7 linked regions of the Homo sapiens genome follow. The protein of the gene in region 5 purifies or fractionates together with the protein of the main gene of each other region. This does not show direct contact. Each region holds a gene or a part of one and is shown on either strand. Other genes may lie near its edges.

Region 1 (4,436 bases), on a different chromosome or scaffold from region 5:
TTCACAGCAACTGAGAGGTATTTTATCATATTAAGCCTAAGACTTAAATATAAAAGTGAATAACTCCCCAAATAAACAGTCTCTTCAGTAGTTGTGTATATATATATTTGTAAAAAGGATTTAACAGTACTCCAAGAAACCCACGGAACTAATAAGCTGGAAGAAATGACAAGGTAGTATCTTTGGCAAAGCACATTTAATAACCTCTTAACCAACAAAAATGTAGGTCCTTTTCATGGGGAAACCTATACACTGCTAGTACTCAGCAAGAAGGTACTCTAAAAGGCTAATCTGTGCTGTCCAAAACAATGTTAAACTTAATTAAAATCAATACATTTTTAAAAATTAACAATTCAGTCCCTCAAACGCATTAGTGACACTGCAAGTGCTCAACAGCCACATGTGGCTACTGGCTTCCACACTGGACAGCACAGATAAAAAACATTCCAATCATTTCAGAAAGTTCTACTGGATAGTTTTGAATTAGATTATGGTAGGAAGAATGATATTAAGACAAGTATCTGTCATATTCTGCAAGTTAACCATTAAAATTCCTCCCATTGTCAAGGAAGCATAATATGTAAAAGCAGGTTAAGTACAGATCATTGCAGCTGCAAACTGAGTAAGGGTAATGAGTAAAAACTTTGAATACCAACAGCATCCTCAATTTATGATTTGGTCAGTCCTATGGCACTGACCTAAGTTAAAAAACTACACAGAAAGCAAGCATTTCTTTTTTTTTAGACAGAGTCTCGCTCTTGTTGGCCAGGCTGGAGTGCAATGGCACGACCTCGGCTCACTGCAACCTCCCACTCCCAGGTTCAAACAATTCTCTTGCTTTAGCCTCCCGAGCAGCTGGGATTACAGGCACCCGCTATCACGCCTGGCTAACTTTTTGTATTTTTAGTAGAGATGGGGTTTCACCATGTTGGCCAGGCTGGTCTCCAATTCCTGACGTCAGGTGATCCACCCACCTCAGCCTCCCAATTACAGGCATGAGCCACCATGCCTAGCTGAAGCAAGCATTTCTTTGCCTTTAAAATAGAAGGAAAAAAACTACTGATTTTTTCAGTACCAAGTCTAACAAAGCTCATCATGAGAAAAAACCCAATACTTCAAATAGGGCAGCACTTTTATAAAAGGTCATGGTAATGGTTCACTTATTTAATTATAAAATCTTCAGAGAAGTATCACAGATTTTTTAACAAGCACAAGAGGCAAGATCTGTGCTTTCAAAACTGTCTGGAAGACAAGAAGTGTCACCAACATAACCCTTGAACTGTCTTGAAATGTCTTTCATTTCTAACTCCCTGTCTAGGTTTATTCCTCCTTTATTCAATAAAGACCTGCCACAAGTGAGTTAAAAAAAAATTAAGACACAATGGAGAGAGCACTACTATACTTAATCCTAACATCTAAACAAAGGCATTTTAATTTCATTTGCAAAATCAAAGGACTACAAACTATCCACAATCTGAATTAAAACATTTAATACTTTGACCTTATGAAATCAGTTTAAAATTAATGCCAAGAAAATATCTTTGATGTCCAGAAAGGAAATGACTGTTTCACAGCAACAACTAACAAGAGCAAATAAATAAAGCGTTGGACTGAATAACCTATAAAACCTGCAAATATCTAACAGGCTGTACATGATACAATACACAGAAAATTAATGAGAGATTTAAAGTTTCTACACTGAACAGCATGGCTATTAAAGACACAACATTCTTTTAATAAATTTCATTTATTTGCTGATCTAATCTGGGAGGGAAATTCAATGTAAAAGCACTTTTAAAATGGACCCCCCTTCCATCCACACCCCAAAAGTTGACTGTTTATTTAGTGTACATTCTGATTTGCTTCCAAGTGCCTTCTCTCCAGTCCATGTTGAGGTGCTTCAAGGATGTGTCGAGATGCATCAAGGAAGAATCCTTCGGACTTGTTACGATGTACCATGTCAATCTGTAGTATAGAGTCATTATAATGTTAATACGGATATCATCCGTAATTTAAAAACTGAATGAGTGTTAGTTCATGCGTGTTAGCCAACTGTTTGAAATGTTTGCTTTTTTAAGATTTCCAAAAAGGCATCTGTTCAAAAATAACATGAAAATTAGTATTTGGGTAAAAATGAGCTCTCAAACTTTCTACTGATTTTTTAAGTATGTGCTCAAAAACTTCTAGTTAAGGGCAAAGTTCTGTATTATAACAGTCTCAAAAGGATCTCTTACTCCAATCCAAAATGCTGTTATGTGTAACTCTGTTTCTTAGCTCTAAATGTGTTGTAAAATTACTTTTGTGTTTAGGCATATCAGAGCACTAGTACCTAAACACACCCTACAATACCATACTTTTTGTGCTTTTATTATACAAGTTTCTCTGCCCACCCACCCACTTCTGCTTGTTTACCTACCTGCCCATAATTAATTCAAGGCTGGACTGAGACAGACTTTCTTCCCTTCCTTGTTACCTTTCCAGATTTTCCTTATGACAGTTAATATTGTTCCCTCTAGCGTTCCAGTAACAATTCATCTACTTTGGGATTCATCACGCCCTACCTTATAGTAGATTGTTATGTTTGTGTCTGTATCTCCCACTATACTGCAAGCTTGTACATTCATCTTATTATTTCCCATAACTAACCCAGTGCCAGTATTAATGTTTGTTTAATTAAGTCGAAGTGTCTCCTTTTTGGGAAAAATCAAAATCACAAACATTAATATGTATTAGTGAAAATTAATAACAAATAACTGAATAGTCATTTTATGGGAGGCAAGGATCATCTGAACTTAGATGAAGAATTCAATCTACATAATAAAAAAGGATGGCTTACAGCTATCTTAGGAAATGTTTAACCTTACTAATTAATAAACCAGCTCTGGTGAATAGTAAAATCTAATATATTTTAGGAAACATTTGCTTCTGTCATAGTTGCTACCAGATGGGACCTGCAAGCTATAGTTATCCTATTCTAAGCACTTTTTTTGTAATGGTATTCTTCGCTTTAGATCTTTAACATTTTATTTTTAGGTTATAAAACATACAAACCTTTTAGAAATTCTCAAGATTATATTTATCTTACAAATAATATTAAGTCAACTCCTTTTAGTGCCTTTAAAAAGTCTTAGTTACTATAGTTATTATTATACCTTTAAATTTAAATGATTTTAGAATGGTCTCATTAACAATAGTTAAATTTTGTATTCAAAAGATCACCACTTAAACATCCCTGGATTGCCATTTGATTAGGAGATGAATAGCATAATTAGAAAACATTAAACACAAATTTTTAATTTAATTTATTATTTTACTGGTTGACACAAGAGGTACCTATCATTAGGTTTTCTAATATAATAAAGGCATATAAAGAGCTATTTGATAGGTATTTAATTCTAATAGAATTAATTACTAATAAGTTAAAAACACGTACAAGCACCAAAATGGAAGAAGTATTTTAAAGAATCTAAAATGTGTTTCAATAATAGATAAATATGAAAATATGTCCTTTCCTATTTCTGTTGTAACAAATGGGGAAAAGAAGGCTCATAATCACTGTTTCTTAAATAATATTGGTAATAATAATAGTCAGCTCACCATTATCTAATACAGGTAACAGTCTAGTTTCCACAATCTAGTTTATTATTTTTATTTCATATCAGCAACTAAAACTCAGTTTAAAATAAATATGTGAGAAAGGATTATTCTACTTGTCTTCATAGCAGTTGCCATAAAATATGCCATAAAATATGGGGACATACCAAAGGGAATAGACACAGGGATGACAAAGGGATGAACAGCAGGTAAAACACTAATTTCTAACTACTTCAGCTTTGTTTCTAAAAAATGATGTCAACTGGTATACAATACTGGGGCAAGGGAGCAAAATTTTACTATGTTGGTTCTTCTCCTGAACCCCATGTTTTTTCCATTATAATAAACAAGATCATTTATAGTCTGGATGAATTAGCCTTATTCAGAAAACAGTCTTAAGAAAAATCTACATTAAACTGCTTTCAGATTTTAAAAAAGGTTTCCATTATTTTTTGTTTTTGCAAGAGAAGTCAATACACAAATTTATTAGAAAAAATGTTTCTTAAAAAAATTTCTGTTTTTTAAGAGACAGGGTCTCACTCGGTTGTCTAGATGGGAGTGCAATGGCATGATCGTAGCTCAATGTAACCTCAAACTCCTGAGCTGAAGTGGTCTATCCACCTCAGCCTCCTGAGAAGCTAGGACTGCAGGCATGTGCTACCACACCCGGCTAATTTTTTTACTTTTTGAAGAGATGGAGTCATGCTATGTTGCCCAGGCTGGTCTTGAACTTCTGGCCTCAAGTGATCCTCCTGCCTTGGCCTCCCAAAGTGCTGGGATTATAGGCGTAAGCCACCATGCCCAGCCCTTTAAGAAATATTTCTTAAAAGTATATAGCCCTA
Region 2 (4,436 bases), on a different chromosome or scaffold from region 5:
AGGCACAGAACACAGAACAACCTGACAGAAATGGCCCAAGAATCTTAAAGTCTTGCAAGATGTCTGTCTGCATGAAAGCAAAAAGAAAAAATAAAATATTAAATAAAAAAAAAATCTTAGTCTGAAGTTTAAGTAGGGACTTTAATTGACTACTGACTCTAAACTGTGCGGCTCTAATAAATCTACTAAAAGTAATCTAACTTTTAAAAGCACCATATGAATAGACAATTTAGGAAAGAAATGTTAATAGGCCTCAAGGAACATGTTTTTGAAGTGAGCCTTGAAAAATCCGCAAAATGATGAGGTTGCATTGGGCAAACTGAAGCTATTATGAGAATGTTCAGGTCAAAAAAATTACCTGACAAATTCATGCAAAGGAGATCACAAGGAACACAAATGTGTTCGCGGGCTTTAAAAAAATCACATTAACATTCATGTTGATATACAAACTCTTCTCCATCTGTTTTGTGTGAGTTTTACCAAGAAACCAAACAACTGGGAGGTACCCACGTTGAAGATGGCAAAACTACCAACTGCCATTTGCATGAATTGTTGACCATGACTAGTATTAAAAAAACTTAAAAATTGATATCACTTTTGTTCCTACAAATTGGCAAAGGATTTTATAAACCAGTAAGTCAGCATTAGCAAAGTGCGAAAATGGCACTATCAGATACTAGTGGTAAGAGCATAAACTGAATATTCTGAATACCCTATAAAACTAGGACAGTGTCCTAGAATTTGTAATGGCATAAACCAGAAACAACATAAATAAAGGAACAGAATTTACAGTACTTCCATGTGATGGGATACCATGAACTCATTAATGTTCAAAAAACATTTAAGTTTAAAAATGCTCAGAACTAAAGTAACATTTAAAAAACAGGCTAGCTCATCTACACACAACATAGTAACATGGTAACAATCTCATAAAAAATACTATATGTATAGAGAAAGAACTAGAAGGAAATGCTCTCAAATATAGGAAATGTTAATAAGGTGGTTAGCTTTTAGTTTTCTTCACCCTGTTCAGTACTTCTGAGTATCTCCTATGAGCTCATTAATCTTTAATTTTAATCATCTTATTTTTAAAAAACAAGGACCATCTTGATATATGTTTACTTTTATTAAGGAAAAAGAATCTATGAACACAGGAACAGAAATCAGGAGATCTTGGCTCTCGCCCTTTCAGTGCCACAAAGCTGTTTTGTGAACCTGTAAATAATCCATTTGGAGTCTCCATGTTTCTCAATTGTAAAATGAGGATGTGCTGCTTCTACACATTTCACAGGGTCATTGCAAGAATAAAATGAGACAATGAGAATGTTGGATTTACATGCTTGTATAAGAACAGAAGATCTTTTATGCCTGTACACAGAAGAAATGGAAATCATGACCCACAAGGCACCAAATAACTGACTGCACACATCACTAAAAAAGCCCCAGGAAAGGCTAGCCGGTTTGTTTATCCTCTTACAAGGACCTATATGATGTGTAAGGTTTTAAGAAAACAAGGTTTGAACGTTAGACATTTCATATACTTATCTATGACTTATGACATTTAATAAGCTTGATTTCACAAAGATTTTCTGTTATTTTGCTTGTGTTGAGAAGATACTATCACAAAAGGCTAGTGGGGTTGCCTTAACTATATGAACCATCACACAAATGTGCTCATCTAAACTAGATTTTATTCTAAATCTTTCCTGGGCTAAAAAGAGAAAAAAAAAGGGCACTACTACTACTACCATTTCAGAAGTCTGTCGTACGTAAAAGGAACAATTTTGTTATTTCTCGCTGCCTGGGAGCAATGTATTATACTGGCAAGTGCTTTGGAGTTACACCACCGGAGTGTGAATCTCAGCTCTATCAATAACTAGCTGTATAATAATGAGTAAGTTACCTAACCTTTCTTTAATTTCCTTATTTATAAAAAAGGGATTAATAATGGTACCGGCCATTCTAAGTTACTGTAATTAAATAAAATTACATTCACAAAGCACTTTTGCACATAGCCAACCCACAGTAAACACTATTAGTAACCTTAGTTCATTAACTGTTTACTGTATACTCTAATAAATGTCTGATACACACCCACGCCCACCTGCACATACACAAATGCTCATAGTAATTATGTAAGGCAAGTATTATCTCCACGTTTCAGACAGGTTATCTTACACAGCTATTATAGTAAGTGATAGAGCAGAACTTAAAAACCCAGTATGATTCAGGTCCAAACTCCTTTTCTTTCTTTATATAACCATAATATTTCAAATTAAGTAAGATTTCCTATATAACGTCCTGCCTCTCATCATTATCATCAAAATAATTCCCCAGAGGTGTAGGTTCTTAATTAAGCATTTCTTAGTGCATAACTCTATTCATTAACATTTTTCAATTTAAGGAATAATCTCATCTCAGCTCATCTGAGGTGTGGATTAAGTGTTCTTTAAGCCTTTATATACACGTGATCACATACGGCTCGTTTTTTCTGCTTGGGATTATAAAAATCTCCGTAACACCAAATACAGCTTTTGAAGTCACATATAAACAGACGTTGACATGTATATTAACAAACATATATAAACAAGGTGATTTCACACGTTATCTACTTAAAAGAGGGAAGTAAAGTAGTTTTACTAAAATATGCGATTATCCACTTGCCAGCTCACCTGTTAGTGGAGCCCCATGAAATGTCTGTGACCCCTGATATCCATCAGGCACTGAGTCTGGTCCATAATTCTCTGTGGGCCAACGATGAGGGGATGCTGAGTTACTGCTATTTAGTTTCAACTCCTGCATTTCTTTCTATTGGAAGAAAAAAAAATCAAATAATTTTAAACATTTAATTATATCATGACAGAAACAGTGCTGGGGAAACTTACTCTTTTAAATTTAAATAACTGATTTTTTTTTTTTTTTTTGAGATGGTGTCTCGATCTGTCGTCCAGGCTGGAGTGCAATGGCACAATCTTGGCTCACCGCAACCTCCACCTCCTGGGCTCAAGCAATTCTCCCACTTCAGCGCCCTGAGTAGCTCGGATTACAGGCGTCAGCCAGCACGCCTGGCTAATTTTTTGTGTAATAGTAGAGATGGGGTTTCACCATGTTTGCCAGGCTAGTCTTGAACTCCTGACCTCAAGTGACCCACCACCTCAGCCTCCCAAAGTGCTGGGATTATAGGTGTGACCCACCACGCCCGGACCTGATTATATCTTTTGAAAGTTTCTATTTGCCAGTGAGTTCTAGGTACCTGGTGCTGATTTTAAAATATGATTCTTAATTTGTTAAAAATTTATCTGCTCCCATTTTCATTTATTAATACAAAACCTAATTTATTAACTCTCACCTAAACAAATAACCTCCTAAATGATCACACCTTCATTTCCATTCTACACTTGCCTACATTAACCTTTCTGACGTTCACCTCCAGCCAAGACAATTCCCTGCTCAAAAAAACAAGTATCTACAAACTAAACTTCTTTCCTCAACTTTCACAGTCCTCTAACATTACACTGACCATCCTTTCAGTGTGTTCTTTCTGCACTGCAATCTGGACTACCTGACATTCCGCGTTACCTCCCCAAATTAGCTTTTCACTTAACCCCATGCTGAAACAAAATACAACTAATTCTCAAGGTGATGTTCAAATGCTCCACCAGGAAAGGGAAAAAAGTAGTAGCTGCAGAGAATTTATTATGTATATAATAATACGTCCAATGCACTTAAACTCTTAATTTTTATACTATCTACACTGTTAGGTAAACAATATTAGCTCCTATCTTAAAATGAGAGAAACGGATGCAGGGAATAACAGCTGGAATTTGAACCAGATCTGACTCCAAAAATGTTTTCTTAACACAACTCTGCTGCCTTGACAAGATGGCAGATAGATACAATGCCGTCTAGTGTAGCTATGTGGCTACCTCATCTCTGCTGAAGAAAACTAAATGACAGCACCATACCCAACCCTAGAACCTACAAAATGTCCCCTTACAAAACAGACACTTAACAGGAAATTCTTTTTCCAAAGAAATTGTAGTGGTATCAGAAAACAGGTAAATTTTGAAAAGTTTCAAACTTCTCTGTATCAGCCCAGGAATCCGACCAGTTCTAACAAGTGAGGTCAGGGACAGATCTAGCATGTCTGCTTTCTTTTTCTACAAGTGTTTCAATTAAAAATTTCCCAGAAAGACCTAACCATGAGGTCCAAAACTATCTCAATTTTCAAGCTAAATAAAATTTCCCCCACTCATCCATCTACAGTGCCTAGTCCAGATGCTACACATACACATCCAATAAGAAACTAGTGGAATCACCTAGAAAACTTTATGGTCACTGTTGGTATCCGCACCAGAGCTTTGAATTTGCAATCACTGCTGTAACTGTAATTTTTAACATTCAGTGTGATGAGAACTGGCTTCAGTAATTCTCTC
Region 3 (4,436 bases), on a different chromosome or scaffold from region 5:
CTTTAAGCAAGAAAGTAATTTCTAACAGTACTATATCCAGCTAAAATCGAACAGAAGAAAAATTACTAATTACAGTACCAAATACAGGAAATTTCCATTTCTCAAATCAAGTAACAACTAAAATAAGTAAATATCCTCTAGGTTCCTTGACAGTATTACGATCAGAGAAATTAGGCCAGACCTAAACTAAGGGATTAAAGTCTCACAGTAAAAAGGTACAAGAGTTAACAGTCACAGTGCTGCTAGTTACATAATTTATGTACCACCATTTTCCTTTCTTACCAGCATTTCCATCTTCCTTTGGATGCCTTTAAAAGCCTGCCTCCCAGCTGGGAGCAGTAACACACACCTGTAGTCCCAACACTATGGGAGGCCGAGGCAGGCAGACTGCTGTGCTCAGAAGTTCAAGACTAGCCTGGGCAACATAGTGACACCTGTCTCTACCAAAAAATGCAAACCTTAGCCAGGTCCACGTGGTGGTGCGCATCTGTATCCCCAGCTACTTGGGGCGCTGAGGTGGGAAGATCGCTTGAGCCCAGAAGGCAGAGGTTACAGTGAGCAAAGATGGAGCCAGCTGCTGCACTCCAGCCGGAGCAAGAGAGACAGATACTGCCTAAAAAAAAAAAAAAGCCTGCCTCCCTCTTAATTTCCTGCTTTAATCCACTCCCAGCCAGGAAATCAGAATCACCAAGCTTCTTATCCCTAGGATAGAGCCTTACAGCATCACATATTGTGTCAATTAAAGATCTTTTATACAAGCTATTCTCCTGCCTTACAATTACAGTTTAGTTTTTTATTCATTGCTATTTTCCATCTGATTAAGGTATCAGATATCTAACCAAAAACAAATTAAGATATAGGCATGGTCCTCTTTTACTCCAACAGAAGACAATTTTTAGAAAAAGTGTTTTAAGCCAAACAATTTCTTGCCCTTGGTATAAAGCAGCAGCATGCAGAAAACACTAATTGCAGTTTCAATCTCAATGGAATCTAGGCTGGTCCTTAGCATCAGTCTGAGTGATAAATCCCTTATTCCAGAATACACTTAGGAAGAACTACTAAGAACATATTTTTACCTATTTCAAAGAAGAAAATGAGAAAAGGCATTGATTTTAAAAAAAAGAATACATGTTACGGTTTGTACTTACTTTTTAGCAAGATCATATTCTTTAGCTTCATAATACAGCTTTGCAAAATAGAATCCTTTCATTGACTTCTAAAAAAAAATTAAAAGTTGTTTTATGTTTCATACAGAAATATTTTCCAACATTTTTTCAAAAGTAGTTAAAGCCTGACAAATGCATAATTCCATGTTTTATAATTTCCTACCACAAAACAAAAAATAGAGCTGGGTGCAGCGGCTCATGCCTGTAATCCCAGCACTTTGGGAGGCCGAAGTGGGCGGATCACCTGAGGTCAGGAGTTTGAGACCAGCCTGGCTAACATGGTGAAACCCCGTCTCTACAAAAATAGAAAAATTAGCCAGGCATGATGGCGGGTGCCTGTAATCCCAGCTACTCAGGAGGCTAAGGCACAAAAATCAGTTGAACCCAGGAGGTGGAGGTTGCAGTGAGCCAGAGGTTGCAGTCAGCTGAGATCGTGCCATTGCACTCCAGCCTGGGCGACAGAGACTCCATCTCCCAAACATCATCATCATCATCATCATCATCATCATCATAAATAAGCTGGGTGCAGTTGGTCACACCTTTAATTCTATTTAATTCTAGCACTTTCAGAGACCAAGGTGGGAGGCTAGCTTTGAGGCCAAGAGTTTGAAACCAGCCTGTGCAACACAACAAGATCCTGTCTCCAGGGGGAAAAAAATAGCCAGGCATAGTGGAGCATGCCTGTGTTCCTAGCTACTCAGGAGGCCAAGGAAGGAGAATCACTTGAGCCCAGGAGGTTGACACTGCCGTGAGTTATGACTGTGACACTGCACTCCAGCCTGGGTGACACAGGGAGATCCTCTCTCTAAATAATAAATACATAACATACAAAAAATAAATTCAAGAAAGCAAGACAAGCAGACAACAGAAGTTAAGAATTTTCATCAGCCTTGGAAATCTCGGAAACCCTGTGGTACCACTCTCTCACTTAACAAACAAAAGAAACCAGCTTTCTTTGGGGAGGAAAGGTATTCCAGAAATCTCTTCTCCTACCATGTGTAAGCCTCTATGGGAAAGAATAAATAAGTACTTAGGATCTATTAAGGCACTGAGGATTCCCGGGTCCATGTACTGTTCTCTCTACAGATCAGATCAGTATTTTACAGTCAAGGAGTCAAAAAGGCAGAAATAAATATTGAATTCTTCAAGTAATAAACGAGGTCCACAGCCTGGATCCTTGGTTACATAAACTCCAAAGTCCAAAATGCTGATGCACACCAGGCTGGGTGCGGTGGCTCACACCTGTAATCCCAGCACTTTCGGAGACTGAGGCGGGTGGATCACTTGAAGCCAAGAGTTCGAGACCAGCCTGGCCAACATACAGAAACCTCCTTTCTACTAAAAATACAAAAATTAGCTGGGCATGGTGGCACACGCCTGTAATCCCCGCTGCTTGGGAGGCTGAGGCAAAGAATCACTTGAACCCGGGAGGCAGAGGCTGCAGTGGGCCAAGATCGCACCACTGAACTCCAACCTGGGCAACAGAATGATTCCATCTCAAAAAAAAAAAAAAAAAAATGCTGATACAACCAGAGTATGTTCCATCCATGTGATAGAGTATACAGCTACTCAAACATCTTATTTTTGAAATTCCAAGACCCCAGTGAATGTCCAAAACGATGAATAGTACCAAACCAGGTTGCCATCAATCGAAACATGTTTCCTGTTTGTGTCCTCCACCCACAAATTTAATGTCTTGTCCATCTCAACTAAGCACTTATCACACACTGTGGCTGTAACTTTTGCAGTTTGGGGTGTCACAACAAAACTAGCACAAATTTCTTTTTCCTTCTTCACAATTTCATGGACAAAAGATTTGTTCTTACCATAGATCTCAGCAACCCCAGTATATGATCTTTTTTCTTTCCTAAGTCAAAAACTCACCTCTTCACTTAAAGGAAGCACTATATGGCTTCTCTCTGGCATATGTGAACTGCCAGCATCGCTATTCTTGCTCTTTGGTGCCATTTTAAATAAAATAAAGGTCACTTGAACACAAGCACTGCAATACTCCAACAACTGATCTGATAACTGAGGTGGCTAGTATGTAACTAGCGGGTGGGGAGCACATACAGCATGAATATGTTGGACAAAGGGATGATTCGTGTCCTGGGTAGGACGGAGCAGGAGGCCGTGAGATTTTTATCATGTTATTCAGACCTGTTTGCAATTTAAAACTCATGAAATGTTTATTTATATAATCTTCCATTCAATATTTTTGGACCACGGGTGACGCAGGTAAGTAAAACCACGTAAGGCAATACTGTGGATAAGAAGGGACTACTGTACCAGCAACGAACAATCAGAAAATGAAATTAAGAAAGCAATTCCATTTACAATCGCATCTAAAAGAAAAAAATGCCTGGGAATAAATGTAAACAAGGAGGTGAGAGACTTGTATGCTTAAATTACAAAACCTTGCTCAATGCCAGGCTAACACCTGCAATCCCAGCACTGGCGACAGAGCAAGACTCCGTCTCAAAAAAAAAAAGAACTATAGCAATCTTAACAAAAATAATACACAACAGTCAGGACAGCACATAAAGGAACAAGTCCTGTTCCCCCCTTCCTTTTTTTTTTTTTTTTTGAGATGGAGTCTTGCTCTGTCGCCAGGCTGGAGTGCGGTGGCTCGATCTCAGCTCACTGCAACCTCTGCGTCCCGGGTACAAGCTGGGACTACAGGCGCACGCCACCATGCCCAGCTAATTTTTGTATTTTCAGTAGAGATGGGGTTTCACCATGTTGGCCAAGATGGTGTCGATCTCTCGACCTTGTGATCTGACTTCTTCCGCCTCCCAAAGTGCTGGGATTACAGGCATCAGCCACCGAGCCCGGCCAGTTCCCCCTTTTCAAAATGAAGAAATAGATTCAAGGTACAATGCCAAAACATAATAGAAAAATAATTCCATTACCTTCTTTGCTTCCAACTATGTTAAAACATAATAGAAAAATAATTCCATTACCTTCTTTGCTTCCAACTATGTTATTAAAGTAGACAATCTTAAGATAATTAAACAACTTTACAAATTATTCTTCTATATGATCTTTTGCCTCTAACCTGCTCACTTTACAAGGGAACTGAAGCTCAAGCAGACAAATGCCTTGTTTAAAGATATACAGCTAGAAAGGAGCACAGCCCATGTTATGTAAACAGGACAATATCTGATGCAAGCAGTACTTCTTTACATGACAGCAGATGTCACTATAAGCAAATACCTGAATTCACTTAAGCTGCCAAATATCAAGAACTGATGCAGGGCTGAAAACAGG
Region 4 (4,436 bases), on a different chromosome or scaffold from region 5:
TTGATATATGTTTACTTTTATTAAGGAAAAAGAATCTATGAACACAGGAACAGAAATCAGGAGATCTTGGCTCTCGCCCTTTCAGTGCCACAAAGCTGTTTTGTGAACCTGTAAATAATCCATTTGGAGTCTCCATGTTTCTCAATTGTAAAATGACGATGTGCTGCTTCTACACATTTCACAGGGTCATTGCAAGAATAAAATGAGACAATGAGAATGTTGGATTTACATGCTTGTATAAGAACAGAAGACCTTTTATGCCTGTACACAGAAGAAATGGAAATCATGACCCACAAGGCACCAAATAACTGACTGCACACATCACTAAAAAAGCCCCAGGAAAGGCTAGCCGGTTTGTTTATCCTCTTACAAGGACCTATATGATGTGTAAGGTTTTAAGAAAACAAGGTTTGAACGTTAGACATTTCATATACTTATCTATGACTTACGACATTTAATAAGCTTGACTTCACAAAGATTTTCTGTTATTTTGCTTGTGTTGAGAAGATACTATCACAAAAGGCTAGTGGGGTTGCCTTAACTATAGGAACCATCACACAAATGTGCTCATCTAAACTAGATTTTTTTCTAAATCTTTCCTGGGCTAAAAAGAGAAAAAAAAAAAGGGCACTACTACTACCATTTCAGAAGTCTGTCGTACGTAAAAGGAACAATTTTGTTATTTCTGGCTGCCTGGGAGCAATGTATTATACTGGCAAGTGCTTTGGAGTTACACCACTGGAGTGTGAATCTCGGCTCTATCAATAACTAGCTGTATAATAATGAGTAAGTTACCTAACCTTTCTTTATCCATTTCCTTATTTATAAAAAAGGGATTAATAATGGTACCGGCCATTCTAAGTTACTGTAATTAAATCAAATTACATTCACACAGCACTTTTGCACACAGCCAACCCACAGTAAACACTATTAGTAACCTTAGTTCATTAACTGTTTACTGTATACTCTAATAAATGTCTGATACACACCCACGCCCACCTGCACATACACAAATGCTCATAGTAATTATGTAAGGCAAGTATTATCTCCACATTTCAGACAGGTTAACTTACACAGCTATTATAGTAAGTGATAGAGCAGAACTTAAAAACCCAGTATGATTCAGGTCCAAACTCCTTTTCTTTCTTTATATAACCATAATATTTCAAATTAAGTAAGATTTCCTATATAACGTCCTGCCTCTCATCATTATCATCAAAATAATTCCCCAGAGGTGTAGGTTCTTAATTAAGCATTTCTTAGTGCATAACTCTATTCAATAACATTTTGCAATTTAAGGAATAATCTCATCTCAGCTCATCTGAGGTGTGGATTAAGTGTTCTTTAAGCCTTTATATACACGTGATCACATACGGCTCGTTTTTTCTGCTTGGGATTATAAAAATCTCCGTAACACCTAATACAGCTTTTGAAGTCACATATAAACAGACGTTGACATGTATATTAACAAACATATATAAACAAGGTGATTTCACACGTTATCTACTTAAAAGAGGGAAGTAAAGTAGTTTTACTAAAATATGCGATTATCCACTTGCCAGCTCACCTGTTAGTGGAGCCCCATGAAATGTCTGTGACCCCTGATATCCATCAGGCACCGAGTCTGGTCCATAATTCTCTGTGGGCCAACGATGACGGGATGCTGACTTACTGCTATTTAGTTTCAACTCCTGCATTTCTTTCTATTGGAAGAAAAAAAAAATCAAATAATTTTAATCATTTAATTATATCATGCCAGAAACAGTGCTGGGGAAACTTACTCTTTTAAATTTAAATAACTGATTTTTTCTTTTTTTCTTTTTTGAGATGGTGTCTCGATCTGTCGTCCAGGCTGGAGTGCAATGGCACAATCTTGGCTCACCGCAACCTCCACCTCCTGGGCTCAAGCAATTCTCCCACCTCAGCCTCCCGAGTAGCTGGGATTACAGGCGTCAGCCAGCACGCCCGGCTAATTTTTGGTATAATAGTAGAGATGGGGTTTCACCATGTTTGCCAGGCTAGTCTTGAACTCCTGACCTCAAGTGATCCACCACCTCAGCCTCCCAAAGTGCTGGGATTATAGGTGTGACCCACCACGCCCGGACCTGATTATATCTTTTGAAAGTTTCTATTTGCCAAAGAGTTCTAGGTACCTGGTGCTGATTTTAAAATATGATTCTTAATTTGTTAAAAATTTATCTGCTCCCATTTTCATTCGTTAATACAAAACCTAATTCATTAACTCTCTCACCTAAACAAATAACCTCCTAAATGATCACACCTTCATTTCCATTCTACACTTGCCTACATTAACCTTTCTGACGTTCACCTCCAGCCAAGACAATTCCCTGCTCAAAAAAACAAGTACCTACAAACTAAACTTCTTTCCCCAACTTTCACAGTCCTCTAACATTACACTGACCATCCTTTCAGTGTGTTCTTTCTACACTGCAACCTGGACTACCTGACATTCCAAATCACCTCCCCAAATTAGCTTTTCACTTAACCCTGTGTTCAAACAAAATACAACTAATTCTCAAGGTGATGTTCAAATGCTCCACCAGGAAAGGGAAAAAAGTAGTAGCTGCAGAGAATTTATTATGTATATAATAATACGTCCAATGCACTTAAACTCTTAATTTTTACACCATCTACACTGTTAGGTAAACAATATTAGCTCCTATCTTAAAATGAGAGAAACGGATGCAGGGAATAACAGCTGGAATTTGAAACACATCTGACTCCAAAAATGTTTTCTTAACACAACTCTGCTGCCTTGACAAGATGGCAGATAGATCCAATGCCGTCTAGTGTAGCTATGTGGCTACTTGATCTCTGCTGAAGAAAACTAAATGACAGCACCATACCCAACACCCTAGAACCTACAAAATGTCCCCTTACAAAACAGACACTTAACAGGAAATTCTTTTTCCAAAGAAATTGTAGTGGTATCAGAAAACAGGTAAATTTTGAAAAGTTTCAAACTTCTCTGTATCAGCCCAGGAATCCGATCAGTTCTAACAAGTGAGGTCAGGGACAGATCTAGCATGTCTGCTTTCTGTTTCTACAAGTGTTTCAATTAAAAATTTCCCAGAAAGACCTAACCATGAGGTCCAAAACTATCTCAATTTTCAAGCTAAATAAAATTTCCCCCATTCATCCATCTACAGTGCCTAGTCCAGATGCTACACATACACATCCAAGAAATAAGAAACTAGTGGAATCACCTAGAAAACTTTATAGTCACTGTTGGTATCCGCACCAGAGCTTTGAATTTGCAATCACTGCTGTAACTGTAATTTTTAACATTCAGTGTGATGAGAACTGGCTTCAATAATTCTCTCATTTTAAAGATAAGAAGCCAAACAGTCACAAAGGAAGTGACTGGCCCAAGATCATTAATTAATGGCAGAGTCAGTACTAGTACCAAGCTTTTCAAGCTCATGGACTAGTGCTCCACTATACTTCCACAGAATACAATGTTGGGAGCCTGAAACCTGTATGTTAAGTCAAAATTGTATGTAATTGTCATAGGCCACGACTACACAGAATTAACATTCAAAATTTTTGTGCAAATTCAAAAATGTCTTCCCCACCAAATAGTATTCTCTTAATTTGCAAATGCTGCTGATCACACTGTAATAATCGCCACACATCAGCATATCCTTGATGTAACTTTAGCAGTATGAGTAATTTAGTTCTTGCTTGATAAACATGAAAGAACCTACTTTTATTTCCAATTCCAAAAAAGTCAAGCTCCTTTGAACCCTATTGTTAAAATAAGATATATATACATAACTATTTCCTTACATAATTAAGTCAAATTCATATGGAAGTATTAAAATATAGTAAGACTTTTTGAAGCTCAGACCACTTTTCGATTCCTAGCTATACATTTGAAACACATGTAATCCACAGCTAATCTGGGAATGAACTCATAGACCAGAGTATGATTAGTACATTGTAGCACTTCAATCACTCGGGAACCTTCTCTGTGTCAGGAACTCTTATATTTTAAATAAAACAGTTTCTACCTTTGAAGGTCTCAAATTTTGTGGAAGATGAGGAGAGAGACACATAAAGTACTTTCAAAAATATGGTAAAGGGCTGGGTGCGGTGGTTTACACCTGTAATCCCAGCACTTTGGGAGGCCAAGGTGGGCAGATCACCTGAGGTCAGAAGTTCAAAACCAGCCTGGCCAACATGGTGAAACTCTGTGTCTACTAAAAATACAAAAATTAGCTGGGCCTGGTGGCGGGTGCCTGTAATCCCAGCTACTCGGGAGGCTGAGGCAGGAGAGTCACTTGAACCTGGGAGGTGGAGGTTGCAGTGAGCCAAGATCACACCATTGCACTCCAGACTGGGCAACAGAGTGAGACTCCATCTCAAAACAAAACAAAACAAAATATGGTAAAGGGTCAAGACCGAGGTATGTA
Region 5 (4,436 bases):
GTACCTACATCATAAGGTGGTTCTGAGTATTAAGTAAGATGATCCATGTAAAGCACTTAGCACAATGCCTGGCACACAAAAACACTCAGTAAATATTAGCTATTATTTTGCATAGATTTATTTACCTGGTTTGGAATTTTGAGGATCCACCTCAAAAGCTGATCTTTGTAATTTTCCTGAAGCAGGGCTCAGAACAGCCCACTTGATAAGAGACAGAGTATGTGAGTCTTATCAAAGGAGTGAACCCAGCTGGTCACTCTGCGTGGTATCCACAGCTCAACCTTTGTTGTTTTCTTCTTCCCATCACCTATAAGGCAACTCCTATGAAGATTTTTGTGAGGGGTTTTTTAACTTTAAATCTTTGTGGAAAAAAAAAGACCCTAACCAAAAAAAAAACTGATACTGCCAGAAGTAGAAAAAAGAGAAAATGAAAACATCCAGAAAACTAATGACTTTGTATTCCTTAATTTGGTGATTTACCAAAGTGTCAAGACATGACTCCCACACCAATGACAACCACTTACATTTCCCCTAGAATGGCAGATTTTTTAACGTACTGGGTTTCCTAAAGCAATTCTTATTTTATATATTCTAATTTATGTACATGAATGTGTCACTTAGACCTGTCACTAGGGATGGTTTAGAAAATAAACTTACACTGCACATGCCTCAGTCCACTTCAAAACTACTGGCAAATGCCTGTAGTCCCAGCTACTCAGAAGGCTAAGATGGGAGGATTGCTTGAGCCCAAGAGGTCGAGGCTGCAATGTGCTATGATGGCACCACTGCACTCCAGTCTGGGTGACAAAGTGAGACCCCATCTCTAAAAATAAAAATAAATAAATAAAAGACGCGAGTTCCTTGTGAATATCAAAAGTCTAATCTGCTGTTATAAATATGAGGAACAAAGCAAAGGGAAGAAATAGGAAAAAAGAAAGACTTCTCTATTTTCTCATCTCCCTAACATTCCTTCTATCTCTAAAATTCCAGACTTTTCTACATTTTCCTCTTCCATGGTACCCGCCCCCCAACCTCCACCCCAACACTGACCTCCTTCTATATTGGCCCTTCCTCCTCCTTACAGGGAGCAGATAGCAGGGACTTACAGATGAACCAGGCCCTGCGATTTTTGGAAAATGAGCACCAGCAACTGCAGGCCAAGATTGAATGCCTGCAAGGGGACAGAGACCTGTGCAGCTTGGATACCCAGGACCTACAAGGTACTCTTCTCCTTGGAGGCCTTGAGTGCATGGCAGCCATGGCCAAGTGAGCTAAGAAAAAAGAAACTGAATTAAGAGAAAGGCTTCAGCCTTTTATTTGTTTGCTTGATTGGTTGATTGGCTTTATAATCTCATTTTACCTTGAGGGAGAGGCAGGACTGTTTTAATCATCCAAAATTGAAAATTAATTTCACTGTAGTAGATAGAGTATCTTGTTGTCTGAGCTCTCTTTTTTAGCCCATCCCTCTGGGCCAGATCACAGCTGCTCCCACATCAGTCACATATGTCAAGGCCACAGTCCTAATTTGAAAGGGAAAGGTCAGTTGAAACACAAGGCATAGAGAAAGTCTCTCAGTCACATCCTCTGTGTCCGCTGATAGAGAGGACTAGATAGTGTGTAAACACAAGCCTCAATGCAACCCAACATTGTTGATGCACAAAAACCTGAGGTACTTGGCTTCTGGTTTACCTCTTCAGAACTGGGACACGAAGATAGAGCAACTTCCAATAGACACACGTTAAAGACCATGACAAGACAGCATCTATTACTAATTTCCATCCTAAGTACTGAGTTCATTAAGTCTTGGGTTCCTTTATTTTGGCTTGCATTATTGCATTTTCAGATCAACTAAAAAGGTCAGAGGCAGAGAAACTCACCCTGGTGACCAGAGTACAGCAGTTGCAGGGTAAGTTCGCTTTCCAGATTCTGAAAGTCCACAGGGTTTTCCTGGGGTCCTGGCCCACAAAAGGCACCCAGAGTAGGGACTAAGGGCCCAGTCTTTGGCATATGCTCTAACTCTGTGCACTTTCAGACCCTCTTCTTGTAAAGTGAGGTCATTTACATAGCTCTCCATAAATTATGTGTTAGCCTCTGTTCTTTTTTTTCTACTGTTCTCCTTCCATGCCAATGACACCACTTACATTTCCCCTAGAACTGCAGATTTTTTTTAAATACTGGGTTTCCTAAAGCAGTTCTTATTTTATATATTCTAATTTATGTACATGAATGTGTCACATAGACCTGTCATTAGAGATGGTTTAGAAAATAAGCTTACACTATACGTGCCTCAATCCACTTCAAAACTACATATTGGGCCCAAAGAGGAAAAGGGACTTCTCAGAAGAAAAGCAGTTTCTGAAAAGCTGGAGAACCTGACTCAATTAATACAGCTGCTGGTTGCCCACCACTTTAACCTCTGACACCTGATAGAGAAGCTTCATGAAAGCAGCAATGATTATTAAGAGAGCAAAGCAACCACAGGGAAAAGGGAAAATCTTCAAGCAAAGACTTGAAGATAGAGACATGGTAGGGGGAGATATAAGGATGCTATATTCATAGCAAAGTACCACAGACTGGGTGCCTTGAAGAACAGAAATGTATTGTCTCACAGTTCTGGAGACTAGAAATCCAAGATGTCAGCAGGGTTGTTTCCTTCTGAGGGCGTTTAGGGAAAGATCTATCCCAGGGCTCTTTCCTTGGCTTTGTAGATGGCCGTCTTCTCTCTGTGTCTCTTCACATTGTCTTTCCCATGAACATATCTGTGTCCATATTTCCCCTTCTTATAAGGACACCAGTGATATTAGATTGGGGCCCACCTGAATGACCCCATTTTAACTTGATTATCTTTTAAAGAATCTATCTCCAAATAAGGTCATTATTTAAGGTACTGAGGGTTAGGACTTCAACATATATATTCTGGGGGACAAAATTCAACACACAGCAGATGGGAACATATTTAATAACCAAGGTTCTAAGCAAAGTTCTGAAAAGAAAACTTTTTGTAGTAAATATGCTAGCATAGACAAGTTCCTTGTGTTTTCCAACAGGTTTGCTTCAAAATCAATCCTTACAGCTTCAAGAACAGGAGAAACTCTTAACAAAGAAAGGTCAGCAAATTTATTACCACAAATTCTAAGATATTGCTCTTCTCTTACCTGCCTAGAGGCAGCGGGATGGACTACATGACCTCCTGGAGTCCCAGCCAGTTCTGGGAGTCTGTTAAGTCCGGGATGTGTGGGAGCTTTTTAAGGACTGATCATTGGCTCTGAGGACACTTCAACTAGTTAGCCTTCTATCTTGAGGTATATAAACTGTGAAAAAGGGTTTCTATTCTCTCTGAAAGCACATGTCTGTGTTGAACATTTCAATAAATTTATTTTGAACTCAGGATTTCATGTCAATTTTTACACACTTGATTTTCCAAATCACATCCAACTCCCCAGCCCCAAACCACATAGCAGTCCAGAGTCAACTCACTGTTAGCCCTAGAGAGTCTACTGTCCATGTTTCCTGAGAATTCACTGTGTATACAGAGGGGCAATAGCTCCTCACCTGTCCACTACACACGACCTTTTGTTTTCTCTTCACAATCATTGGGCATAATATAATAGATAAGGCAGAAATTTTTATGCTCACAGAGTATGGATAAGAACATGAAAGTCTATGGTGACACAAACTAACAACACAGCTATAACAACAATCCAAAACTTCTGACTCCTAGTCCATGCTCTTTTCACCAAGACTAAGACTGCAGGGTGGCTAAAAAACCATCTTTAACCATATGAAGATAAATTTTAGGATATGACTGCCATCTTCACAACTTTCAAATGAGGACATCAGGGAAAAGGGATTGTATTAAAGCATTTACCAAACTTATTTGACAAACTAGGAAGAATGTGACATACAACCAATGAAATTCAATTAAGAAGTATTCACTAAAACTATCTAGCACTAGATAAGACTGGGGATACAAAGAAAAGATCCCAATCTTGCCCTCAAGGAGCTCAGATTCCAGCTGTCTGTCCAAGCTTAGCAGGGGCCTACTGGAAGTTAACCTTTATGTCAGAGAATGCCATCAGTCTAGCCAAGAGCACGCCCTCCCAAGTTCCCTCCCCTCTCCCCACTCCTAGTGGTTTCACCCTCAGGGCCCTTCCTCAGAGGTGTGGGCCTCACTGTCACCAAGAATCTGGCTGCTTTTTTAGATCAGGCTTTGCCCGTGTGGAGTCCAAAGTCCTTCCCTAACGAAGTGGAGCCTGAGGGTACAGGGAAGGAGAAAGACTGGGATCTCAGAGACCAGCTGCAAAAGAAGACTTTGCAGCTCCAGGCCAAGGAAAAGGAGGTGAGAGGGTGACCTGAGATAGTGAGGGCTCATTTGCGAAATAGCAGAGAAACCTGGGAGGCAGTCAAAAAGCAGGGATTTCAAAGTTTAAGTTGTG
Region 6 (4,436 bases), on a different chromosome or scaffold from region 5:
GATATAAGCAAAATGCTTTTCAATTTTATACTCTGCTCCCCCCATGTCTAGCAGTGCATAAAAGTACTAATTTCTCTGCACCCTCACCAACCCCAGGCTTTTAAGTTTTGCACTCTGATGATTGTGAAATAATATTTTATTATTTTAATTTGCTTTTCCCCATATACTAATAAAGTTCAATATCTTCTCATATATTTATTGACCATTTGGCTTTTTCTTCTATAAATTCCCATTTATATTCTTTGCCCATTTCTTTGTTGGGTTGCTCATCTCTCTCCTCTCTTTAAAATATATATATATTTATATCATATTCCTATTATGAATTCTAATCCTTTGTTGGTTATTAAACTTAGCTCTCTATTTCTCTGTCACTCATCACAAAATTTATTCTCTGTGCTCATGCACAAGAACGTCTTTAAAATTGTTTGTCTCTTTTCTCTGAAAAAGCATGCCTCAAAGTATCACTTCCATGTGACAGAATATTTAAATTTCACACATCTCCACCCAAAGCTTGTTTATTAATAACTGGCATTCATAGCACATGTAACATGGAGGCCCTTAATGTGAGGAGATCACATTTACCCTAAGCTAAAAATCCAGACAGAGACAAGCAGGCCAGCACTGAAAGAAGAATGGAATTACTTAACCCCAGCTCATAAACATCCAAGCAGAACTCTACTATGATGGATGCAGGTGACATGTCCAGCCTTGCTCAGCTGGCCAGTTGACTATAGTTTTTCCTCGGACTTTGCTGAGATTTTAATAAGGGGCAGTTGCGAGAGGAAGAAGGAAAAGATGGAGGTAGAGGAGACAAAGGAAAAAGAGATGGCATGGGATAGAAAGAGGGCAGCAGAAAGAAGTAGGCAGGCAAAGATATGGGTGACAGGAAGAGAAAAAGAGAAGGAATATGGAGAAGATGGAGAGAAAACTGATTTGAGAGTGCACCAAATCAGTTATTTTCAAAGAGAATAAAGAAGAGTGAGCAGGAAAGAGTGATAGAATGACAGAATGAAGAATACCATAGCCAAGGAGAATCACAGAAGGAAATGTGAAGACAAACAAAGAGATATTTACCACTTGGATGGAGAGGAAAAGGAATGTGGAGAACAGCCTTTGTTCAACAGCCACTTGGTGAGAACAGACAAGCTTCCAGGGAGATCACAGGCCCCTTCCCTCTCCTCCTGGCCATTCTTCCACTAGCTACTGACCCATCTACCTCATACCTGACAACTCGGCTGCATGCCCATCTGCATCTCCATACTCAAACTCCAGAGTGGGACAGTCCACAGAGCCCTGTAACAGAGAAATTTTGTTGGTAACTGGGATAACTTGGAAAAAGGGGTTGCCAAGGGAAGACTGTACCCTTATTTATCTTCTTCCCCTCATGGAGGCCAAGGTTAGATCAGGGAGACAGTTAGGAGAGTCCTATTTGGGTCTTTCATCTCAGAGGTACCCTACGCCAAGCCAAAACTTGAGTCTCAGTGTGGGGAGGGGCTGAGGATTCCTATACAAAATCGGAAAGTCTGAATAAAGGGCCAGGATCTCAAACATATATGAAAGCTATGGTCTGTGTCCATATCTAATCTACATGAACACAGACCAGAGGAGCATCTAGCTGATTTATATAAAATTGAGACAGACAGAAACAAAGAGAACTGGATTCTAGCTTCAGTTCTGTCATCAACCCACTGTATGATATAGATCAAGTCTCATGCTGTGGATCATAGTTCCTTATTTTTAAAGAGGTTCTTTAGCTCTAATATTCTGCAACTTTAGGATTGTCAAATGATGCAACATCTCCACTCCAAGTTGTAGTAAAGATTACATTTCCCATGACGTTGTATGTATAAATTTATAATCCTAGTAAATATGTTTTAATATAATCCCATCTTCTAACTTAAACATTTTGGGATATTTCCTTCCTGTATATGTTCATACATATGAATTTTTAAAATTTTCAATCTCAGCTCTGTCACATACTATTTGATCTTGGACAAGTTAACCTCTCTGTGCCTCAGCGTGACATAAAAAATATACTGTTCTTTGCCCCTGGTTCCTGGTACAGAGCTCCTGAAACTCTTAGAAGTTCCTGAGTGATAGGAGTGTCAGTTATTCATAATGAGTCACTGTCAGCTTTACCAGAATTTATGCTCATGAGGTGACTTATGTTAGGAAAGACGGAGCACATGATTAGAGGGTTTAACTTTCAGCACCACCCCCACATCCAGGGAGGGGAGGGGTACTACAGATTAAGTTCAGTCATGTGGCCAATAGTTTAATTATGTCTAGGTAATGAAACACCATAGGAAAACCCAGAAACAACTAGGTTCAGGCAGCTTTTGGGTTGGGGAACAAACAGATGTGCTAGGAGAGTGCTGCCCAGGGAAGATAAGGAAACTCTGCATCACCCCAAACCCATACTTCGTCCTTCGCATCTCTTCCATTTAGCTGTTTCTGAGTCATATCCTTTATAATAAAATTATAATTCTAAGTACATGCTTTCCTGAATCCTGTGAGTTATTCTAGCAAATTATGGAACCTGAAAGGAAGATCATGATAACCGCTTAATTTGTAGTTGGCCAGGCTGAAGTGTAGATAGCTTGGGGATCCCACCTATGGCTGGTGTCTAACGTAGGGCCTTGTAGGACTGAGCCCTTAACTTGGGGGTCTGTGCTAATTCTAGGTAGTTAGTGTCAGAATCGAATTGAACTGTAGGACATCCAGTTGGTGTCAGCGAATTGTTGGAAAATGACCTGCTCAGTTTTCCCATCTGTAAAATGAGGATAATAACAGGACTTACTTCATAGGGTTATTTTAAGGACTAAATGAGTTAATATAGGAAAGGCACACGGCCTAGCACTTCGTAGCACTATGTGAGTGGTCACTCTATGATTTTAATATTATACTATAAAGGCATTCTTCTCACATTATTATGACTATTAGTTTAAATGGTTGTATAAATGGATGTACATTTATTTGTTTACTTAACTAGTTCCTTATTGAATATTTAAATGGTTTTTAATTTTCCTTTATTATATGCAACAAACTGTAATAGACTTACACTTTTTTCTATATTTAGGATATTTCCTAAGCATAGATTTTTATAAAGAAAATTAATGAATCAAATCTTATGAACATTTTAAAGTCTCTTTGTATATAAGTTGCTCCCCCAAAACATTATGCCAATTTATACTGTCAACAAAGCAAATTGGCCGGGCGCAGTGGCTCACGCCTGTAATCCCAACACTTTGGGAGGCCGAGGTGGGCGGATTACGAGGTCAGGAGATCGAGACCATCCTGGCTAACACGGTGAAACCCCGTCTCCACTAAAAATACAAAAAATTAGCCGAGCATGGTGGCGGACGCCTGTAGTCCCAGCTACTCGGGAGGCTGAGGCAGGAGAATGGCGTGAACCCGGGAGGCAGAGCTTGCAGTGAGCCGAGTTTGCGCCACTGCACTCCAGCCTGGGTGACAGAGTGAGACTCTGTCAAAAAAAAAAAAAACAAAAAAAAACAAGGCGAATCATGTTTTAATCCACTATAGCAAAGATTTCCAAACTTTTGGATTAAAAGGAACAGTAGGGAAAAAGAAAAAGGTGGAGAGTGGCAAATGACATAGGGTTGTTGCTGTTTTATTCTGATAGGTAAGGACTTTAAAAACTTTAAAAAATTCAAAAAATGAAAGACAGAATCTCAGAATAAAGAACAGCCATTAAAAATTGTTTTTCAAACTTTTTGGAAAAATGATACCTTTTACATTACGTCCCAGCACACACACACACACACACAAACTGGAACAAAAGTTTAACAAAATATTTACCTTTACTGCATGTGATGCAGTGATATTTTCTATTATTCTCTTTCTTTTCTTTTTTTTTTTAAGACAGGGTCTTCCTCTCACCCAGGCTGGAGTGCAGTGGCATGATCACAGCTCACTGCGGCCTCAACCTCCTAGACTTAAGTGATTCAGCCTCCTGAGCAGCTGGGACAACAGGCGCGCACCATCATGCCTGGCTAAATCTTTTTTATTTTTTATTTATTTGTAGAGATGGGGTCTGCCTACATTTCCCAGGCTTGTCTCGAATTCCTGGCTGAAGCTACCCACCTGCCTCAGTCTCCCAAAGTGCTGGGATAATAGGCATGAGCCATCATGCTGGCTTTATTTCTTAAAATAAAAATTTTAGCCTCAATTAACAGGTTGCCCCCTATAGCAGTTTGAAAAACACTGTTTTAAATTGTATACATTCTTAAATTTAATATATTGAACTAAATTTTTAGAAAAACTCACTTCGATGACCTGAATTTTCCTCATTTTACCACAGACCAGTTAAAACTTTGTCAAGGAGTTTGAGATCAATAAACCAGATCTGGCTAAAAGAGGTCTGAGGTGAATCCTTTTATTAGGTTAAGACTCTTCTTATTAAGCAAACAATTATT
Region 7 (4,436 bases), on a different chromosome or scaffold from region 5:
AGGAGCTAGCTAGAGTATTTGTGTCTTCTCCTCTAATTTTTTTTTTTTTTTTTTTTTTGAGACAGAGCCTCACTCTGTCTCTCAGGCTGGAGTGCAGTGGCGAGATCTCGGCTCACTGCAACCTCCGCCTCCTGGGTTCAAGCAACTCTCCTGCCTCAGCCTCCTGAGTAGCTGGGATTACAGGCGCCCGCCAACACATCCAGCTAATTTTTGTGTTTTTAGTAGAGACAGGGTTTCACCATGTTGGCCAGGCTGGTCTCGAACTCCTAACTTCAAGTCATCCACCCGCCTCAGCCTCCCAAAGTGCTGGGATTACAGGCATGAGCCACCATGCTCAGCAAATTACTATTTTTTTTAACACGCTTTAGATTTTTATCATAATGCCATTACCATAGGAAGGGATCTCTACTGCCAGAAAAACCAGAGACTGGGGAACACACATGCATAGCCTTGACCAAGACCTTAACTGCACTGAACTCTACTTGGCCAGATGCCTACTATGTTCTTGGTTCCTCTGACTGTTTTCAGAAGAATGCAAACCATTCCAGAGTTCTGCCTGTTTTCTTTTGTCTATTTCTGTCTCTTTCTCTCTCCCCATCTCCTCTCAAGGCCTGGCTGACCTGCAAGGTTTCTTTGAATGTCTATCTATGCTCAATAACTGATACCTTCTCCTTTCTCCTATAATAAATAAATAAATTTCCCTTCTACATTCCTCCCTCTGATCAAAACTGTCTACTCAACCACAGGAATATAGGTGAGTGATACTTTCTTCCTTATACTTCTCTGGAATTTTCACAATGTTCTTTTAGTAGTTACCTAACTAGGGGAAAAGTTTCAAAAACTCTAACTGATCCAGTGATCATTATATAACACTTATCTGAAATGCAAAAGCAAAAAAGCTCCTGTGATTAAGTACAAAACAATTTCAGAGCTGTTATTTCATTGGTTCATGGAACTCTTGCAGTCCCCACTTCAGCATGCTGCTGCAGTGAAATAAACAAGGGTTTCTCCTGCTCCCAAACTGAAAGAGAAAATCCGAAAAGAGGAAGGAGTAATCAAGTTGCATAGAGAAGACAATCTTACAGAGAAAGGGTGCCAGGAATTTAATTCTTTGTGGAATATTAGAACTTTAAAAATTCCTCAAAATAAAACACCATCTTAATCTAAAATGCCAACTTTTAAAGAAAGCATAGAATGACTTGAGGCCAACCCAAATGCCCATCAATGACAGACTGGATAAAGAAAATGTGGCACATATACACCACGGAATACTATGCGGCCATAAAAAAGGAATGAGTTCATGTCCTTTGCAGGGACATGGATGAAGCTAGAAGCCATCATTCTCAGCAAATTAACGCGGGAACAGAAAACCAAACAGTACATGTTCTCACTAATAAGTGGGAGTTGAACAATCAGAACACATGAATACAGGGAAGGGAACATCACACACTGAGGCCTATCAGGGGGTGAGGGGCGAGGGGAGGGAGAGCATTAGAACAAATACCTAATGCATGTGGGGCTTAAAACCTAGACGACAGGTTGATAGATGCGGCAAACCACCATGGCACATGTATATCTATGTAACATAACAAACTTGCATGTTCTATGCATGTATCCTAGAACTTAAAGTAAAATAAAATTTAAAAAAGCACAGAATGATTTGCTAGGATGCACCATTCCCAGTAACGTCAAATATTTATCAGATATAACATAAACATTTTTTTTAAAAGTGGTATTTCTTTCCTATGATTTGCCAAATTTTAATTTTATTTAAAAAGAAATAAATAGGCCACAATAAGATAACTTTAGAGAAGAAAAAGAGAAAGAAGTCTACAATCCAGTTTGAAAACACTGGAAATACCCACATATATAAGCCCTTATACATTTTCACATATTTTTTCACATCCTTCCTCTTCACACTCTTAACCATATGATCCTCCATATGATGCAAACATGCCTTTAACAAAACCACCCACACGTATAAGCAGACACAAATATCCTCATTCCTCCCAAATTTCCAGGCATAAGCACCCATAGATGAACAAAGAGATACACTAAATACATATATCAAGTATATAAAAGATACTGTGGAACTGACTCAGGTTATCTATTATATCCACCAAAACATGGAAACAAAGCTCAAGGACAATGTCACATGACCCCATAGGGGCACTCACACTCATCGAAACAGGTCTAAGACAACACTGAAGCTGTCAAGTCTGGACCTGGGATCTGGCAGAGACGGTACATCTGTCACCCACTGCTGCCTGGCACACAAGGGGATACACACATATACCTCTACCTGAAGCCTCACCAGGAAGTCACTTGCTCATTCCTGCTGTCCTATCTGACCTGCCCTGAGCTCACCCTCTCCTAGCACTGTAGCAGCAGCAGTGAGAGTACAAGCAGTAAGCCTTCCTTTCACCCAAACCAGAAATCCAGGCCCTCTCTCTCCCTATGGCAAAGCTAGTGTTTCCCACACCTAAGAATCCTCTACTGTCTCACTGTAGATCTCCTCTTCTATGTCACCTCAAAAAGCCAAGTAGCCATTTCTCCCACCCAGGCCTTTCATCTGATTCCAATCTCCATACAACCTAGTGTATAGCTGCTGAAGACACCAATTACAGGATGGTCAAAAAGAGGATCTTCAGATAAGGGAGGAGTAAGTAGATATATAAAAGAGATGGTCTGAAGATAATGTAATAGATTGAGTAAGAAAATAATGCAAATAAATTGTTTAATGGAGAAAATAAAATCGAAGATACAAAAAATTGGTAGAAACGTCAAATTTATATTCAGAAGATTAAACTTTAATTAGAGCCTTTCTTCATTCCTACAATATTAAGGCAAAATATCTGGTCAGACTGAGATTCCTTTCTAAAAGGAAATGTATGAAAATCATGGATATATGGGCTTTCAATAATCTGTTTTTATCTACTCACCATGGTCCACGAGCCAAGCCATACATAAAGAATTCAGCTTTTCATCAAAGAATTCCACACCCTACAGATACAGAAGATTCCATTAACATACATTGCCAAAATTCAGAAATAAAGATGGTCTATTTACATTACACCAAGGTTACCTGAAGGCTAAAAAAACTTGTTTCCAAATAAACAAATAAGAGATAGAAACACCACAGGAATTACAAACAAACCATAAATCTATTTATTGGACGGAAATCATAAACAAAAAAAAAGCATACGTGAGCTGGCATAGGCCCTGCTAGGTAAAAGAGAACAGGGTGGCCAGAAGTCAGCCACAACACTGCAAAAGAGCAGGAAGAATGCACTGTGTATGGTCTGCCAAGCAAATCTGGATTACCTGTAAAAATGAATTACCCAGGAAAACACCTGTCAGTAATATTACTAATTCTCAATCGTCTTCCCTTTTTGGTTACTATTATGACAAATCCTTAAGGATAAAGCAACTGACCTCAAGACATAGAGATATCCCCAGTTAAAGAGAGTATTTTCGAGACAACAGGAGAAAGCCCTGGAGGGAGAATAAAGCAGGCCCAGGACTACAGGGCATATGGCCCAGGCATGGCTTGCTCTCCCAGCCCTGTTCCTCCCGACTGTCAACAGGTGGCCACTTCAGTGCAGGCTGGGGATGGGCTCCGGGAGCAGATTTACACAGTCCTCTAACCCCGGGGCTTCCACACCACATGGAGAATGCTGTGACACACTTTCCTAGTGCCTCCCTTCTGGGGTCTACACATTTACAGTCTTGCTTCTTTGAACTCTAAGAAGTTCCTGACTGGTGATTCTATATTTTAAAAAAAGAGAGGTAATATAATGTGTCAGTGCTTTGAAAATAGTGATTGAATAAGACAAAATAGCTTTTTTTTTTTGAGATGGAGTCTCACTCTATTGCCCAGGCTGGAGTACAGTGGCACAATCTCAGCTCACTGCAACCTCCACCTCCCGGGTTCAAGTGATTCTCCTGCCTCAGCCTCTCAAGTAGCTGGGATTACAGATATGCAGCACATGCCCAGCTAATTTTGTATTTTTAGTAGAGACAGGGTTTCACCATGTTGGCCAGGCTGGTCTCTTAACTCCTGACTCAGATGATCCGTCCGCCTCAGCCTCCCAAAGTGCTGGGATTACAGGCATGAGCCACCGCACCTGGCCCAAAATTGCTTTGTACTAAAAGATCATAATGAACAAATTTTGGCATACACTTAGATTACGTCAGCCAAGATTTCTTTTTCATTTCAGGTTGAGAATTTTCCTTCAGTTTTAATTAACTTTTATTTTCCAGTTTGTTGTTGTTGTTGTTGTTGTTGTCGAGACGGAATCTCTCTCTGTCGCCCAGGCTGGAGTACAGTGGTGCAATGTCAGCTCACTACAACCTCCGCCTCCTGGGTTCAAGCAATTCTCCTGCCTCAGCCTCCCAAGAAGCCTCCCAAGTAACAGGCACCCACCACCACACCC

The links.
Region 1: the proteins of TRAF3IP3 (region 5) and FGFR1OP2 purify together in Homo sapiens (affinity purification with mass spectrometry; 3 studies listed by BioGRID and IntAct, with this or other methods). This does not show direct contact.
Region 2: the proteins of TRAF3IP3 (region 5) and RANBP2 purify together in Homo sapiens (affinity purification with mass spectrometry; 2 studies listed by BioGRID and IntAct, with this or other methods). This does not show direct contact.
Region 3: the proteins of TRAF3IP3 (region 5) and RGPD8 purify together in Homo sapiens (affinity purification with mass spectrometry; 2 studies listed by BioGRID and IntAct, with this or other methods). This does not show direct contact.
Region 4: the proteins of TRAF3IP3 (region 5) and RGPD5 purify together in Homo sapiens (affinity purification with mass spectrometry, with the first as the bait; 2 studies listed by BioGRID). This does not show direct contact.
Region 6: the proteins of TRAF3IP3 (region 5) and STRIP2 purify together in Homo sapiens (affinity purification with mass spectrometry; 3 studies listed by BioGRID and IntAct, with this or other methods). This does not show direct contact.
Region 7: the proteins of TRAF3IP3 (region 5) and PPP2R1B purify together in Homo sapiens (co-immunoprecipitation; 3 studies listed by BioGRID and IntAct, with this or other methods). This does not show direct contact.

What each region holds. Positions count from the first base shown.
Region 1 is NC_000012.12:26,958,044-26,962,479, reverse strand, and holds part of FGFR1OP2 (FGFR1 oncogene partner 2), read right to left. Parts: intron 1,966-4,436; coding exon 1,852-1,965; coding exon of another isoform or gene 1,843-1,851; exon of another isoform or gene 1,729-1,842; intron 1-1,728. UniProt on the Homo sapiens protein: May be involved in wound healing pathway.
Region 2 is NC_000002.12:108,756,785-108,761,220, reverse strand, and holds part of RANBP2 (E3 SUMO-protein ligase RanBP2), read right to left. Parts: intron 2,809-4,436; coding exon 2,673-2,808; intron 1,277-2,672; coding exon of another isoform or gene 1,164-1,276; exon of another isoform or gene 1,108-1,163; intron 1-1,107. UniProt on the Homo sapiens protein: E3 SUMO-protein ligase which facilitates SUMO1 and SUMO2 conjugation by UBE2I. Involved in transport factor (Ran-GTP, karyopherin)-mediated protein import via the F-G repeat-containing domain which acts as a docking site for substrates.
Region 3 is NC_000002.12:112,423,092-112,427,527, forward strand, and holds part of RGPD8 (RANBP2-like and GRIP domain-containing protein 8), read right to left. Parts: intron 1,217-4,436; coding exon 1,149-1,216; intron 1-1,148.
Region 4 is NC_000002.12:109,828,584-109,833,019, reverse strand, and holds part of RGPD5 (RANBP2-like and GRIP domain-containing protein 5/6), read right to left. Parts: intron 1,704-4,436; coding exon 1,568-1,703; intron 170-1,567; coding exon of another isoform or gene 57-169; exon of another isoform or gene 1-56.
Region 5 is NC_000001.11:209,776,268-209,780,703, forward strand, and holds part of TRAF3IP3 (TRAF3-interacting JNK-activating modulator), read left to right. Parts: intron 1-1,084; coding exon 1,085-1,220; intron 1,221-1,843; coding exon 1,844-1,906; intron 1,907-2,940; exon of another isoform or gene 2,941-3,047; coding exon 3,048-3,107; coding exon of another isoform or gene 3,108-3,136; exon of another isoform or gene 3,137-3,163; coding exon of another isoform or gene 3,164-3,186; exon of another isoform or gene 3,187-4,202; coding exon 4,203-4,339; exon of another isoform or gene 4,340-4,436. UniProt on the Homo sapiens protein: Adapter protein that plays essential roles in both innate and adaptive immunity. Plays a crucial role in the regulation of thymocyte development.
Region 6 is NC_000007.14:129,436,879-129,441,314, reverse strand, and holds part of STRIP2 (striatin-interacting protein 2), read right to left. Parts: intron 1,294-4,436; coding exon 1,224-1,293; intron 1-1,223. UniProt on the Homo sapiens protein: Plays a role in the regulation of cell morphology and cytoskeletal organization. Required in the control of cell shape. Calmodulin-binding scaffolding protein which is the center of the striatin-interacting phosphatase and kinase (STRIPAK) complexes.
Region 7 is NC_000011.10:111,745,012-111,749,447, forward strand, and holds part of PPP2R1B (serine/threonine-protein phosphatase 2A 65 kDa regulatory subunit A beta isoform), read right to left. Parts: intron 3,004-4,436; coding exon 2,943-3,003; intron 1-2,942. UniProt on the Homo sapiens protein: The PR65 subunit of protein phosphatase 2A serves as a scaffolding molecule to coordinate the assembly of the catalytic subunit and a variable regulatory B subunit.